Regions from separate parts of the Homo sapiens genome. Here region 2 is linked to region 1. Evidence: fine-mapped expression QTL. A gene starts in region 1. The other region holds a variant in brackets. All regions are shown on one strand. Distances are between the middles of the regions. Region 1 holds the start of OR52K1 (olfactory receptor family 52 subfamily K member 1). Region 2 overlaps OR52K2 (olfactory receptor family 52 subfamily K member 2).

Evidence for each region. PIP is the estimated chance that this variant, and not a neighbour inherited with it, causes the effect.
Region 2: its variant is the best candidate, but not a certain one, in a credible set for the expression of OR52K1 in blood mononuclear cells (TOPMed, PIP 0.81).

Annotation. Positions count from the first base shown.
Region 1 is chr11:4,477,800-4,486,141 of GRCh38, reverse strand. OR52K1 (olfactory receptor family 52 subfamily K member 1) reads right to left here and starts at 3,496. Exons shown (of 2, transcript NM_001005171.3): 1 at 2,966-3,496.
Region 2 is chr11:4,450,204-4,458,545 of GRCh38, reverse strand. It overlaps OR52K2 (olfactory receptor family 52 subfamily K member 2), which reads right to left. Exons shown (of 1, transcript NM_001005172.2): 1 at 8,185-8,342. The coding sequence ends at 8,262. Among named protein-coding and RNA genes, the nearest start is that of OR52K2, 5.1 kb to the right of the region's middle. The variant A/G (reference allele first, on the strand shown) is at 3,077.

The DNA.
Region 1 (8,342 bases):
GTGGGATACAGCTGAGTAAGGTGCTATCAACCTACACCTGCACTCGAATGGTTCCCACAACAATGCCTACAACAAAAAGGGGAGATGACAGGACATGAGAAGACCATAATAGATTTGGAATATAGGAGTCACCCAGGGGAAAGGAACAGTCTAAGAAAATGGAACAGCCAGAGAAAATGCCCCAAGACATAAAAACACCTGTTATTCAAATATCAGCAGGCAGCCAGCACAGGTAGGATGAAGCAAATGAGCAGGAGAATCAGGTCAGAACAGTGGGGCCAAATCACACAGGGCCCCACAGGCCTTTGTGGACTTTGCAAAAGTTCCCCATTTCTCTCAGAATCAAGGACATTGTTTTCAGCAGAGAGGAGATGTATGTGACTTATACTTTTAAAGTTTTCCCTGGCATCTATGATGGAGAATAGCACAAAGAGGGAAGGGTAGAATTGGGGGAAAGTACCTGGAGACTATTGCAGGAATCCAAGGAAGGGAGAACATTGGCTCAGAATCAAGGTAGCAGTGTATGTAGTGGGAAGTAATAGGATTGGGGATATATTTTTAAAATGTGTCAGTGGCATTTTTGACAGGTTAGATATAGGAAGTGAGACAACAGGGAGTCGAAGATGACACCCTGATTTTTGGCATAAACCACTGATAGGAGCTGCTCCCAACTGAGACGGGGAAAGCATGAAAGGAGGAGCTCGAGACTTCAATTTTTGAACATGGTGAGTTTGAGATATCAGAAATTCAAGTGAATATGGTAATACGTATAGAAAATAAATCATATTTAAAGCCACAAAACTGTTTGAGATCGCCCAGACAGTAAATGTTCACAGAAAAGAGAACTAGAGAACCCAGAACTGAATCCCAACATTAAGAATGGATGGGAGAAGAGTTGGAGCACACTGAGATATTCGCAAGGGAAACTGACAGTGGAAACTATTAAGATAGAAACATCCCCAAATAATGTACTATCTTAGTATATAGAATATAGTTTACTAACAAGTGGATTATTACCATGTAAAATGCTACTGATGAGTCAAAGAACTTGAAAACACAATTGGCCTTGTGTTTAGAATTGCACAAGAGGATTGGATACCTTGATAAAAGCAATTTTGCTAGAAGAGAGACAGGCAAAGCCTGACTTGACTGAGTTAGAATAGATAAGAGGGGAATTGAAGTTTGTTAACATGGCTAACTTTTTTGAGGAATTTGGAAGCAAAGGACAGCAAGTAAATAGGGCACTGGCTAAAATGGAAAGCGAAGTCAACTGTGTGTGTGTGTGTGTGTGTGTGTGTGTGTGTGTGTCTGTGTGTTTTAGAACAGAAGTATCATGTCTTTAGCTGAAGCAAATTATCCAGTAGTAGGGGAAAAGTTGAAACTTAGACGAAGAAAGAGAATACTGCTCCTGAAAAGACCGTGAATATTGCATCTTTCTAGGTGGTCTGCTGGTTGATCATTGAGAATATAAACATATCCTGAAACAAACACAAATTTACATACCTTACATTCCTTGTAAGCTCCAGACTAGGATATCCAACTCCATACTCGATATCCCCACATATCTTCCTCACAGATATGTCAAACCTGCCATGCCTGAGGCAGAAATCATGACTACTTCTCTTCTTGTGCTGCCCATATCTCAGAACGTAACATCCTGCCCAACCAGTTGCTCAACCTAGAATCAAGTCATCCTGGATTCTTCTCTTTTCTTCCTGCATCATATTTAATCATCAGCAAGCACACTGGATCATCCTACATAGTAAATCTCCACGTTGCCCATTGCGTTTCCAACACTTCCACCCTTCCAACACCATCACCCTTGTTCAAGCCACAGCATCTCCCAGCAACTACTGCTACAAAAGAATCCTAACAAGTACACAAAGTTCCACTTTGTTCTCCAATATTTATCCTTCAACAATTACCCACCATATCATGAAGTGAAGGGACTGGAGTTAAGAAACTCTACCTATTTTCCTTCTGTAAACCCAGCCTCTAACATACATAGGTGTGGAACATTTCACTAAATAAAACAGACTACTAGATTATTGGAAGACATATTTCTCAGAATACTACTCCCCTCATGTGATTTAAGCTCAGAATTTGGGTTATCTTCTCATTTAAAATGCATCCAGAATGGAGGTTCTAAGCATCCCGATTACAATACTTTGTTACCTGCATCAGAATAAAATTCTCTTCTTAATGGAAAATACTATTTTAAATATTCATAATGTTTGTGCATTTTTGTCAGGAACAAGCTCTTATGACAACAGACATTTTTATTTTCAAGTACATATCAGTACCTAGAAACATGCCTGGCGTCTAAGAAACTCTTCTAAAATACTGTGAAATAATCCCACAAACCTGCTGCATCTTTACCTTATCTCAATATGTATTTTCCACAAAACCCACATGTTTTACTTTGAGTCTCCATGTCCCCCTAGATTCCTCCATTCAACTTTTAAACATCACTAACCACCCTGTGAGCTGTCTACCCATCTTCATACAAGAAAAAAAGGCATCTCTTCTATCAGATTTCTTCCTGAAAAGACAGGGTGTCTAATAGTTCATAAATCTTACTTCCTTTGAAGTTCATCTAAAATCAACTCCTCAGAATGAAGTGCTCTGAGTAGGAGTGTGAATGGAGCCAGTCTTCTTCCCCTAATATCCAGAAACTAAGACCTCCTCTGTAGTGCAAGTTTTGTCCAGACTGTTCATTGTTTTCAGAACTAAGATGTCCATGCTCAAAGGATTTATCTTCTATTTCTCCTTAAAAAAGGCCTCTGTACCCAGAATGGACTCAATTAATACTGAATCTATTTGGTTGCCTATACCTTTATCTTAAAAGGATATCAGAATGACATATCTGAAAAACTTAGAACCAGACAAGGAAGGATAATCACATAATCAAGATACTTCAGGACTGCTTCTGGTAGAAGAACCTCAAAGATAAGGTATTTCTTACCTTTCCCTGCCATCTTTCTAGTTCAGGCCTCGTTTTCTTCCTCTTGACTAATGCAGAAGCCCTTTAACTGGGATGGGGCATTTGCCAGGGGTTAGAAAAAGCAATGACAGGAGGTGAGAAGTGACAGATCCAAACTGGAATAATCAACTAAGACTTCTTGGAGATGGCCCACAGTGTTTGGCATAGGACGGAAGCAGGCATCCTCTGTGGTGGGGAGAGCATCTGGAGTTTGTGTACCAAACAGTTGGGTGGGACTATCGAGACTTCTGTTCCCTCTATTGAAGGACCAGAGTAGAAGCAATAACAGGGTTGGAGAGCTGATGCCTAAGATCAGGAATGGCTATGGGAAGAAATTGACAGTGCCCCCACCTTCCAGCTCACTCCCACCTTCCTGCTCACCCCAATAACATCACTTGTTTTCTATTTCCCTAAGTTGCAGCTGTATCCACAGTCCTCAGTCTGACTTACAATCCTGGGCCCTTTTCATTAGCTTCATGCAGCACCAGTGCCGCCTTCCTCTTTCAGTCTAAGGAGTCTTAGAAGGAGGAAGCTGGGAAGCGAGCAGCTGGCTTTAATCCTCACCAACCTCTGCCCTTCTCCCAGAAGGCTGTGGAAGCAGAAACTGCTGCACTTGAGCAGAGTCCTCAGAGACATCTCTGGCCTCCTCTCTCTGGGTTGATGCAAGGGGACTTCCCCTGACCCAAGGGGACTGTATCCTTGTTTCCTACAACCCATGCCTCCTCCCCAGCTAGTGGCACTGAGTTGTGCCTACCAGGGGTCATGCCCTACTTGCCAGAGGCTGTGAGACTTTCAGGTGGAGCTGGCTTGTGTCTTGGTGTTTGCTGTGCCTCTCCTTACTCTTTATCCTTACAGTGTCTTCAAAGAAAGCCAGCCTCATCAGAAAATATACACTGCAGGCAACTCCTGTCAGAACTGACTTGAAAGGGCAGGGAGTCCAGCCTGACCAGGCCAAGGTCATCCATTAGGCATTTTATTTTGCATTCATATTTCATATTGGCCTGAGATATGCATTAATAACCAGCTCGTGAACTTGATCTGGCACCTGTCTGATCCCTGATCTATTTTTCTTATCTCTAAGGTAGAGATAACTTTTACAATATTTTCTAACTCACAAGGATAGGAGGATCTAAGTAGATAAACAAGAGGCCACTATGAATGTGATTCCTTATTAATAATTAGGAAATTACCAATCATCTATAAATGATAAAGAGTGATCTTTCTACCTACAGCTGACTTAATGTGTGCTATTTTTCAAGGACCTGAGAAGATGCTTTTCACTAGAGTTCTCCATGGATTTTGTCTACCCTAATTCCCCATAATTTTTAAAAGCAATCTCAGAACGCTGTAACTCAGTCATCTCACTCCCTTCCCACACAGGTACCCTGGAACTAACTTCCCCTTCTGTAATAGTTGGCCCTCAAGGGTGTGGACTCAGCACTCCTCCATGATAAGTCTGATCTTTTGGGATGCTGGGATAAAGTGGAATTCCTACATAGTTTTAACAATGTACAGCTAGGCCAAGGGGATACAGCCTGTATGAAAAGCACCTCACCAAAACCTAATATGGCAAAAGCCAGATAAAAGCCAGACAAGAGCCAGATAGAATAGACAGTGTTTTTGTGAACAAAGCACCTTAATTTGCCCCCAACTCCATTCTGAATGGGCAATCCTGACATCATAGGAGCAGGATAAGAAGCACATGGAGTGGGGGAGTGGGCAGTGGGGCCATTGGCTCAAACCATGCTGGAGATAACTGCTGGAATATTGGAACACTTAGACTGTTTAATTCATTGACATCCTCCCCACCCTATCTTTTCTTTTGTAAAATCTAGATTCTTTTACATTCATATGCATCTTTGTTTTGGTGTTCTTCATTCCCTCCAGGTTTTTCATGTTTCCATCTGGATCATTTTTTTTCTGCATGAAAAACTACTTTTATTTTTGCTTTTATTACAGGCCATATAGTGACACATTCCATCAACTTTTGCTCATTTGTAAAATTATCTTAGTCATCTTTGTTTGTGAAAGATGACTCACCTCCCGGGCCTCTGTCTAAAATTCTATTTCAATTTGAATAGGTTTTTAAATGGGCAATTCTTCTTTCATCCACTTTAGTATATTAATTGTATTCTGCCTTCACTTGCTTTTTTTGAAGTCAAGTATCTATTAATATCAGTCTTATTGTTGATCCTGTGAATATAATGTGCCCTACCCATACCTGGGTGCTGCTTTCTTTTTTTTTTTTTCCAGTTAGCTGTGATCACACAGAACATTGTAGGCCTTTGTATCAGTCTGTTCTCACACTGCTATGAAGAACTACCTGAGACTGGGTACTTTTATGGAGAAAAGAGGTTTGACTGACTCACAGTTCCTGCAGGCTGTACAGAAGCATGGCTGGGAGGCCTCAGGAAACTTAGTCATGGCAGAAGATGAAGGGGAAGCAAGCAGGTCTTACCACAGCGGAGCAGGAAAAAGGGAATGGGGGCGGGGCCATACGCTTTTAAACAGAACATCAAGGGGGAAATCTGCCCCCATGATCCTATCACCTCTCACCAGGTCCCCTCTTCTGACATGTGGGGATTACAATTCGAGAGGAGATTTGGGTGTGGACACAGAGCCAAACCATATCAGCCATGTAAGGATTTCACTTTGCAAAGGTTCATAATTTCTCTCGGAATAAAAGCCAAGGTTGAGCAGTGAATTGACATTATTTGACATATGTTTTTTAGATATTGCTTCTGACTTAATGGGAACAGCACAAGATGATGAGGATGAAAGCAGAGAAAGGATTACAGATGCTATTGTAGGCATCCAGAGAGAAGATGGTGTTTCCAAATCAATGTGTTAATCATATATATGGAGAGAAATCAGATGTATCAGATTTTATATCTATTTTTTAAGTGCCAGTGGGAATTCCTGAAAAATTAGCTCCAGGCTGTGAGAGAAAAAGAAATCAAAGATAACACCAAGACTCCTTGCTTGAGGAACACGTAGGTGGGAAGGTGTTGTGAGGGTTGCTAGGCAGAACAGGATCCTATACTCAAGCATTGATCCTACTTTAAGGATGATGTGCACCTCTGTGTCCTAGCTTGGAATGTTGGGATGACCTAGTTTTTGAGTGATTAGAAGTATTGCATCTAGGCCTAGATAACTGCATCAAGTTTCCTTTATCCTAATCTATATACCCATCTATATGGGTATAAAATTATATGTGCCTGTAGGCTACTCATATTTCTTATTCATGTTTTGATTGTGTGCTAAACTCAAATGAGCTCATAGAGAAGGTAATTTTCCTTTTACTATTTGTGACTAATCCTGGCTGTGCTAATGTTATGTTGATATATTACCTGTCTATGGGATCCTTATACTACTGGACTTGTTCTGGGAACAAAATTATTTCTTCACTGGGGATAGATATGACCTTAAGGATGATGTTATTCCCCGTATAAGTCAATGGGAAAATAAGATTTCTCTTGTTGGAAATACCTTTTAAAATTCATGCTCTTTTCCATGTTTGTTTATATGTGGTTACAACTTAGTGTTTATTTTTTAGCTGCCCACCTGCCCCAACTATTCTCAGACAAAATAATCAAGAGGTGTTGACTACATGAGGCATTTGTCTTTGTGTCTGAGGGATTCATGGGAGCAGTGATGGAATATAAGGGGAAGCAAGAGTGTAGGTTCTTGCAATACTCTTGTCTCCTGCACAGCTTCCAACCTTCTACACCACACCTGACAAATGCTTGGAGATTGTTTCAAAGATAACTAATATAGAGAGAGATAGAGATGCTTCCTAAACAGTAGTCTCTGAGGAAACAATGAAAGGGGTCACAAAAAATGAAGTACAAGAATGCATTTGTGGAAGATGATGTATGAAAATATACTCATTTTCTAGGCTGTAATAACAAAATACCACAGACTGGATGGTCTCAATACAGAAACCTATTTTCTCAATTCTGGAAGCTAGATGTTCAAGTTAAGGTGTGGCAAGGTTGATTCCTTTTGAGGCCTCTCTCCTTGGCTTGGACATTATCTTCTCCTTGTGTCTTTTCTTATATGGACACCTGTTGTATTAGATTGAGTGCCATCCTAATAACTTCATTTTAACTTAATTAACCTCTTTGAAGACCTTATCTCCAAATACAGTCATATTACTCTGAGATACTAGGGTTTAGGACTTCAACATATGAGTTTACTGAAAGGAGACACAATTCAGCTCATAACACCCTGCCTTCTGGCTCCCTAAAGTCTAGTCCTTCCCACATGCAAAATACAAGCATCCCCAATTCCAGGGGTTAACTGTAAATACAAAATCTCATCTAAATGTAATATCTAAATCGTTTATGTGACACTCTGGTATGAATCCATCCTGAGGCAAAATTTCCCTCCATCTATAAACCTGTGAAACCAGACAAGCTACCTGTGACCAAAATATAATGGTAGAACAGGCACAGGATAGGCATTCCCACTCAAAAAGGGAGAAATCAGAATAAAAGTGTTATGAGTCACAAATAAGTCTAAAACCTAGCAGGGCAAATTACACTTGATTTAAGGCTCAGAATAATCCTTTTTGACTCAATGGACAGCAGCCCTAATCCCTCAGTCCTGGGTTAGAGGCACCCTGGCCTTCTGAAACCAATGGGCTGGCTCTGCCCTCTGGAACCAAGGAAGAGGCAGCCTAACCTCCTGGATCTGTGTCTTTTGGGCTTGTGGTGGCAGTGGTATCCCTGCCAACCTCTGAACAACCTTAGGGTATGTTCTCCCTTTTCTTTAAGGATAATGCACGTTTGCAGCTAAATAGCTGTATTGGGCCATCCTCTGGAATCCCGGAAGTCCAGCTACCTTCTTTCATGTCATCCTAACTCTGTTCATTTCTGCTGCTAATAAAATTCTCAAAAAGCATGTTGGTCTCTGATGCAATTCATGGGGTCCAAACTATCAGATAAAAGGGATTCCTGTGAGTCTTTCCTGCATAGCCCCATCTCTATTCCTGGCTTCTGCTGAGATGGCTGATTGTATTCATAAACACATGCCTAATCCTTTTTTTAAAAATTGGCACATATTAATTGTACATATTTAGAGGGTGCAGGCAATATTTCCATACATGTATACAACTGGTAATGATAAAATCAGGGTAATCAATTTGAGATAATCTGTCACCTCAAATATTTATCATTTCATTGTGTTGAACATTCAAAATCCACTCCTCTGGCTGTTTTGAAATCTATACTAAATTATTAACTATTGTCATTCTAGTGTGCTATGGAATACTAAAACTTATTCCTTCTACCCAAAGGGCAATTTTCTACCCATTAACCAACTCCTCCCTATACCCTCTTCCCCCCTACTCTTCCAA
Region 2 (8,342 bases), 28 kb after region 1:
CAATGGGATTTAGGGAATTCTTAGTGGTTAGTGCTAGGTCATCCTTTCTAATGGTGGGATAGCTTCATATTTTAAAATTATTGAGTAAGCCATCTTCCTGCCTTTTGGTTGAGAATAGTTCTGACTTGGTGAGGTGTGCTAACAATGAGGTTTCCCCCAAAGGTTAATTTTCCGCTTTCTTCTGTTAGCAAGGCAGTTGCTGCTACAGATTGGACACATGCAGGCCATCCATGGGTTACTGGGTCTAGAATTTTTGACAAAAAGGCTATGGGCTGCTGGTGGCCCCCATGATCTTGGGTGAGTACCCCTAAAGCCACTCCCTTGTTTACACTGACGAAAAGATGAAATGGCTGCTCTAGGGAGGGTAGAATGAGAACAGGGGCAGTTACTAGTAAATGTTTTAATTTTTCTATCTGTCGCATTTCTGGTTGGGTCCAGATAAGTGGGGGCGACTCCCTCTGAATTGAGTTTTTGGTATAGCAGTTTTCTTTCTAGGGCATAAGAGTCAACCCATAGGCAACAGTATCCAACTAAGCCTAAGAACGTTCTAAGCTCCTCTTTTGTTTCTGGCAGAAGTAGGGATATAATACCTTCAATTCGTTCAAACCCAATCCTCCATTTGCCTTTGCTGATTAAAATTCCTAAGTACTTTACTTCAGGCTCTACAAACTGAAGTTTACTTTTTGAGACTCTTAATTCTTCTACTCTTAGAAAATTAAGGAAGTTGATTGAAAATGCTGTTACCCATTCTTTGTTTTCCCCTGAAATAAGCAGGCCATCCATGTACTGGAGTAGGCATATGCATGAGGGCAAGGAAAATTTTTCTATGACTTATTTTAAATTTTGACCAAAAGGATTTGGAGAGTCTGTAAACACTTGGGGTAAAACTGTCCATGGGTACTGTTGTTTTAAACTAGATCGGGGGTCTTCCCACTCAAAGGCAAACAAGTCCCAGCTGTCCTCCACTAAAGGGCAAGTCCAGAAGGCACCTTTCAGGTTTTACAGTGAACCATTCATAGTTAGGTGGGATTTTGCTGTTAATGGTGTAAGGATTGGGAGCAGCAGGGTATGTAGTTTGAACTACTTGATTAATAGCCCGGAGGTCTTACACTAGCCAGTATGACCCATCTGGCTTCTTTACAGGTAATATTGTGGTATTATAAGGGGGTATACAGGGTTCAAGATGTCTATCATGAACAAGGCTTTCAATTATAGGTTTTAAACCTATCCTAGCTTTTAAAGGAATAGGGTGTTGTTTTCTTACTACTTCCCCAAGAGTTTTTAATTTGACCTTTATTGAGGAAACAAATAATTTTCCTTGATTTCCTTCTTTTGACCAGGTATTAGGATGGATATACTCTTCATCTATAGTAGTGAGTAAGTTTAGAGAGGTGAGAAATTTTCCCTGGTTAACATAGAGGCCTAAGCCTAATTCTAGCATTAAATCTCTTCCTATTAGGTTAGTTCCTTCCTCTGGTATTAACAAAAATTGTATATTAGCTGATCTATTTTTATATATGACTTTTGTTTCCTCTAAAGGTTTTGCTTTAAATCCTTCTCCCTTCACTCCTGAAATAAGGAGTTCTTCTTGTGAACAAATTACACCAGATGGGGAATGATAAACAGAGGAGGAAGCTGCCCCTGAGTCAATTAAAAAGGTAATAAGCTTGAATTTGGGTCCCTCCTCTAAATTTATCAAGGGCTCTTGGTGGAACTCAATATAGAAAAGACAGAGCCCCTGACCCTCCTAATCTTCCTCAAAAGCCATAAGGGGAATAACTTCCTTTTCTTTTTCCCATTCAGGGCATTCTCTTTTAATATGACCTATTTTTCCACATTTGAAACATTTATTTTGCTTCTTTTCTCTATTTCATGGCTGTCTGGCTTGATCCCTTTTCCTTCTGTGTAGGGTCTGACAGCCAGGGACTTAGAAGATTTGTAAGTTCTATTTCCCTGGGCTGCCTGTTAGGGAGTTGTAAGGTGGACAACATAATTTTTGCGTTTTGCTTTTGCTTTTCTTCATCCCTCCGTACACATACCTTTTGGGCCTCTCTTAAAAGTTCCTCTATGGAATGGTCTTTCCAATTTTCTGTCTTCTGTAATTCCTTTGTGATGCCTGGCCAGCTATTGCTGACAAAGTGGAGCTTTAACATCCCTTGTCCAGGTGGGCCCTCCACATCTAAACCTGCATATTTCTTCATCTGTTCCTTAAGTCTGTTGAGGAATTCCATGGGCCCTTCATCTTTTCCCTGTTGTGTATTAAAGGCTTTAGTAATATTCTGGGTGCAGGGCACCAATTCTCTAATTCCTTTAATTATTTCCCTTAGGTCTCTCATATTTCTTCAATAGGCTATATTGTTATTCCATTGGGGATCTTGAGGAGGGAATTTCTGTTCAGCTGCAGGGATGTTTTGACCGGGGGGTTCTCACGCTCCCAAAAGGTCATAGCAGCCCTACAGATAATGCTTCTTTCCTCTTCCGAAAAGAGGATGCCTAGGATGTACATTAACTCGGCCCAAGTATACAAGTGGGGGCCTAAGAATTGATCAATTTGATCTGCTACTCCATAGGGATCATCTAAGAGTGGTTTTAGTTCCCTTTTCAGGCTTTGGACTTCTGAACTGGTTAAGGGGACATTCACAAAGCCAATGCCCCCTCCTCCTAGAGGAACTTCCCTTAAGGGAAAAAGGTTTGCAGCCAATCCTCTAGAGGTAGTGGGGAAAGGAAAGTTTGGATATCCTTCTTACATTGTTCTATCTCATGTTGAAGCCTTCCTAAGGGAGGGCTGGGGACAGCCCCAAGAGTCAGGGTCATAAGGGAGGGAAATGACAATGTGAGTTGGGGAAGAGTTTGAGGCAGTTGCAACTGCTGGAGGGGGAGGGAAGTTAGTAATGTTTGGAGGAGGAAGTTGGTCTGTAGGAGGGGGAAGGAAGTTTGGTGGGGGAAGTTGGTCTAAGGCAGCCCACGTGTTACACTTTTGGGGTGAGGGATATTAATTTCTTGAGAGGAAGTAGTTTCTGGCTTGTGTCCTGTAGTTTTATGGACTAGAGGATGACAGGCCTCTGCCACCAACACA[A/G]GGCATAGTCTATTTCCTCCAGGGAGATAGGACTTTTGTTATTGACATACTCTATTAAAAGTTGACAAATCCATTCCTCACTAGACCCAAACTTTGGCTAGAAGACTTGAAGGTTTGAGGATAGGTTCTTTGGTCCAAATAAAAAATCAATATTTTATCATTTGCTGCTTTTTCTTCTGTTTAGTTCTTTCCTTATCCTTCCAATATTTTAACACGAGACCTAGAGGGCTATCTGAGTGTATTTTATTGCCCATCTTTTCCTTTTTATCCTGTCTTGCTTGGGCTATTTCCCATCCTAGAAGCTTTAGGTGTTTCCTGAGTGTGACCCCTAAGTGGGGGGTCAACATCTCTTACTAGAGATTTCTTGTACCCTCTACTCTAGAGGCTCAACCCCCTTACTGGAGGTTTCTTGCACTCCTTTGCTTTTGCTTCATCCACCTCTGGCTGCTTCCACAGAGTGAATTTAGGTCCCTCTTAGCATTGGCATGTTGATGTAAACCCCACGACAGGAATCCAGCGTAAGCCATATGAGGTGACCACAGAACTGCAGATCAGGACCACACTGGCTTCGCACTCAATTGTGCAGCTCACCCACACCTTTTCAACCTCCAGGATGCCCTGACCACCAAGAAATACTTTACTGCCCCTATGGTTTTTCTTACCACAGTCTGTGCACAGTTACCTGGTCACTGCAGTATTTGTAGGCCTTTTCCTCCCATGTTGCTGAGAGTCCTGGTTTTATTCATCACGCTGGGTGGGGCTCAATTCCTTATTCCTGAGGCCACTGCAATGAGGCAGCGGGATGCATCTCCTCATGACAGGGGTTTGCAGACCCTTCCCCAGAGGAGAATGGGATCCCTGATGAGCCCCCAAATTGTTAGAAACAAATGCTTGATGCCACAAAGAAGAACCAGCACTCAGGCAAAAAGTTGTCTCAGAATGGCAATTTACTTCTGCAGAACAGTGCTACCTGCATCAGCCACGATTGCAAGAGCACACCAAACAAAGGAGAAAAGGGGTTTTTATCCCTAATTCCTGTTTCTGTGTCCTTTCCCCATTGGCTGCAGTTGGACCTCACAATCTAAGCTATCCAGATTGGCTAAGACTTAAACTTCTCCAAATAGGGTAAAAGACTTAAACTTTTCCAAATGGAGTAAATGCACAATTTGCAAAGGGAGGAGGGGAGGGAGAGACTGTTATTAACTAGGCAGGAGGGAAGGCATGTCTAGGCATATCTGGGTGCAGCAAGGAGGGAAGGGTTGGTCACAGAACAGAGAGAAAAAGGAAGTTTGAAACTTCTTCCAAATAAGGTAGTGAGATGAGGACTTTGAAGGCCAAAGCAGGGAGAAGGGCTAATTTACAATCTTACAACTTATAACAAGAAAGTTAAGTTTTGAAGAGGAACTTAGTTGTTCTAACACCAATATCTAGTCCCATATCTGCTTCTGTTATGCGTATATAAGGTATCCAAGTTATCAGCAGTGAATCTGTACAGGTTTGCAGCAACCTCAATTCTTGCCTCCTCAGAAAAAAGAATTTTGAGGGTCATGAGGCAGAAAAAGAGACCAAGGCAAGTCTCAGAACAGGAGTGGAAGTTTATTAAAAAGCTTTAGAGCAGGCACCAGGTACAGTGGCTCACACCTGTAATCCCAGCATTTTGGGAGGCTGAGGTGGGTGGATCAGCTGATGTCAGAAGTTCGAGATGAGCCTGACCAACAAAGTGAAACCCCGTCTCTACTAAAAATAGAAAAATTAGCCAGGCATGGTGGTAGGCACCTGTAGTCCCAGCTACTTGGGAGGCTGCGACTGAAGAATAGCTTGAAACCAGGAAGCGGTAGTTATAATGAGCGAGGTCATGCCATTGCACTCCAGCCTGGGTTACAGAGAGAGACTCCATCTCAAAAAAAAAAAAAAAAAAAAAAAAAAAAAAAAAAAAAAATAGCCTTAGAGCAGGAAAGAAAGGAAAGTACACTTGGAAGAGACCCAAGCAGGCGACTTGAAGGACAAGTGCCCCACTTAATCTTGATCCTGGGACTTTATAAGATGGCCCACTTCCAGGGTCTTGCACCCCTTTCCCATGATTCTTCCCTTAGGGTGGGCTGCCTGAATGCACAGTGCCCTCCTTACCCTTAGGAAGTGAGCATGCGCAGTGTGTTTAAGAAGTTGTACGCATGCCCATCTGAGGCTTTCTTCAGTTTTCTGACAGAATGCCTCTGGAAGGTCATACTCCACCACTTTGTTTTTTAATGAACATGCCCAGGCTCACTTGCTCATTTCCTGTGATTTTACTGGAAACTGATTACCAATCTCAAGTATTTTCATCTGTTTGGGAAGTTGCCTCTCTTAGGTACCTGAATTCAATTAACACTTTAGTGTGGCAGCTTGGACCATCGGGAGATTGTCTCTCCCTGGCACTGATGGCCAAGTTATCATTTTTAGAGGGGCAGTGTGGTAACTGCCCAACCATCACTTGACTATAGTCAGACATTCCTGGTGGGTAGGTGGTAGGGCCCCCTCCTGCCCCACTCATGCCTGTCTAACTACCTGTAATGTTTCCCCCCACTCAAGAGCCCAAGACCCCAAATCTTTGGAGGAAAATGGATGAAGGTCAGTCTTTTGTAACTGCTTTCTGCTGACAGAGGGGTGGTGGTGGTGGTTCTGTGGGTCTTGGCCTCTTGCTGTCAGGGCAGGAGGGTGACTCAGTGGCTTAGCAAAAGTGGTATCCAGCCAGGTCCAGGGGCAGAATTTTGCCTACTTTCTGTCCACTGATGAGCAGTCTAGCGGTTCCCTGTAGAAGGGTACCTCTTGAATATTGAGAGGACAGTATACCTCACGGAGGACCATCTGGAGCTTGATGGCCTGGGGGTGAGAGGAGACAAATTGGGTTTAGAATTTAGAAGACCTGAACCAAAAAGGTGCAAAACTAGGAGAATAACAAGTGGTCCTAAAAAGGAAAGAACCCAGGAGAACCATTTCCAGGCTCCTTCCCTATCTAACCAACCCTGAGAGGCAAGTTCCCATAATAAATGGAGGCTTGATTTGGAAGTCGTGTGATGTTGTCCTGTACTTTTCACAGTTGGTTTACCCAAAAGCAATACTTTTCATCTAAGGCTGAACAAAGTCTTCCTTGTGCTGCCATTAGCATATCTAGTCCTCAACAATTCTGGAGGGAATGCAAATTAATACAACCACTCTGAAAAACAGTATGGAAGTTCCTCAAAATACTAAAAATATAACTACCATGAGATTTAGTAATCCCACTACTAGGTATTTATTCAAAAGAAAGGAATCAATATGTCAAAGAGATATCTGTATTCCTATATTTAGTACTAGACACAATAGCCAAAACATGGAATCAATGTAAGTGCTATTAATATCTGAATGGATAAAGAAAAATATGATACACATGGAATATTAGTCATAAGAAAGAATGAAATCCTGTCACTTGCAGCAACGTGGATGAAACTGTAGGTCATTAAGTTAAGTGAAACAAGCCAGGTACAGAAAGACAATTATTGTATTTCTCACTCATGTGGATGCTAAGTACAGCTCATGAAAATAGAGAGCAGATTGGTGGTTATTGGGGGCTGGGAAGGGAGGCAGGGAGGATAAGAGATTAATTGAGTATAAAAATACAGCTAGATATAAAAAATAACAAGATGTAGTGTTCAAGAAATCAGTAGGGACTATAGAAAACAATCTACTGTATATATCAAAATAGCTAGAAGAGAATAATTTTAATGTTCCTAGCATAAAAGAAACATTTAAGGTCATGGATATTCCAATTATCCTGATTTGATCATTATCTATTATATGAATATATCAGAATATCACATATACTCCAAAAATATATATATCTAGCATGTAGCAATTTTTTATGTAATACATTATTTCTCTGGGGTATTTGTTTTTGTGTCAAAGGGAATTATAAGAGCAGAGGTGGAATATAAGGGGAAGTAAAACTCTAGGTTCTTGCTATACTCTTCCCTCCTGGACAGCTTCCAACCTTCTACACCCCACCTGAAATAGGCTTGGAAATTATCTTTCAAGGCTAAATAATATAGACAGGTAAATAGAGAAAGATACAGTGATAGCAAAAGAGATATATAATTTCTAAGCAATAATATCTGAGGAAACAAGTGGGTCAGAAGATAACAGCAGAACAATGTATTTATACAGGGCTTGTGTGAAAAGCTTAGCTGTGTTGTCAGGATTAATAGAGAATTATATAGTAGGTAAGTTCACATGAGACAGGAAAAGAGAAACATAATATTCTTGCCTCCTATCTGCTTGGTCTTGCTCTTCTTTTATTATGCTGGGCCTTGGGATGGAAATTTCAGAGAACAGAATCTATCATAATTATCATTTCCTTCTCTGTCTTAGGACAAATACACAAGTCTGACACCCCTAATTTAGTATATGTGTCCCCATCCCCTATCACAGATTTGGTGGAATTAGTAAATAAATGAGCCATTCTCATTCTTGAAAACATAAGATACATCTATGTGCAAAGAAAGAGTTGCATGAAACATAAAGCCAGAGGACATGTCTTATTCAAAGTACTTAATAAAAGGAATTGGACATAAGGATGGATTGGTAAATATAAGCAAAAGAATACACATACTGGCTTAGGTGAAAAAATGATTTTCTAGCAAGCATAGGTGTCTTACTCAGAACCTGCAGCCCTGGAATGTTTCAAACTTCCTAACACTGAGTGTTTCATCAGAAGCTGGACACCACCAGTCAGAATGAATGAAGGATTCCTATGTCAGATATACTGTTGGCCCTCACCCAGGTCCTGAGTAGATAGTTCACCAAATTCCCAATGACTAAGAAAAGAAACTCAGATTTTCAAAGTCTTCTCTTCAGCAAATGAAGTTGGAAGCATCTTTGTGTCTTTCGGTGAAGTCACCTGGAGACCCATGGGTCAAGTCTCTGTCAAGTTACTGATAGGGGTGAGGGCACTGTGAGAAGACAGCACAGTCAGCACATTCAATCCACAGGCTACCAGAGGACACAGACCCATGAGTCCTGAACAGACTGGTGGCTCTGAGTTTCAGGACATCATTTTTTTTTTTTCCAAGAAAAAACTAAACATGAAGATCCTGGCAGCCGTGCACATTCTACCATAGCCTGTCTCCAACTCCAGCAGACAAGCCAACCCATTCTTTCTCCACCTCACCCTCTACATATCCTTTCTTGGGAATACTCCCAAGATGCTCTCACGGATTTGCTTGGTCTTGACACCATAGATTATGGGATTGAC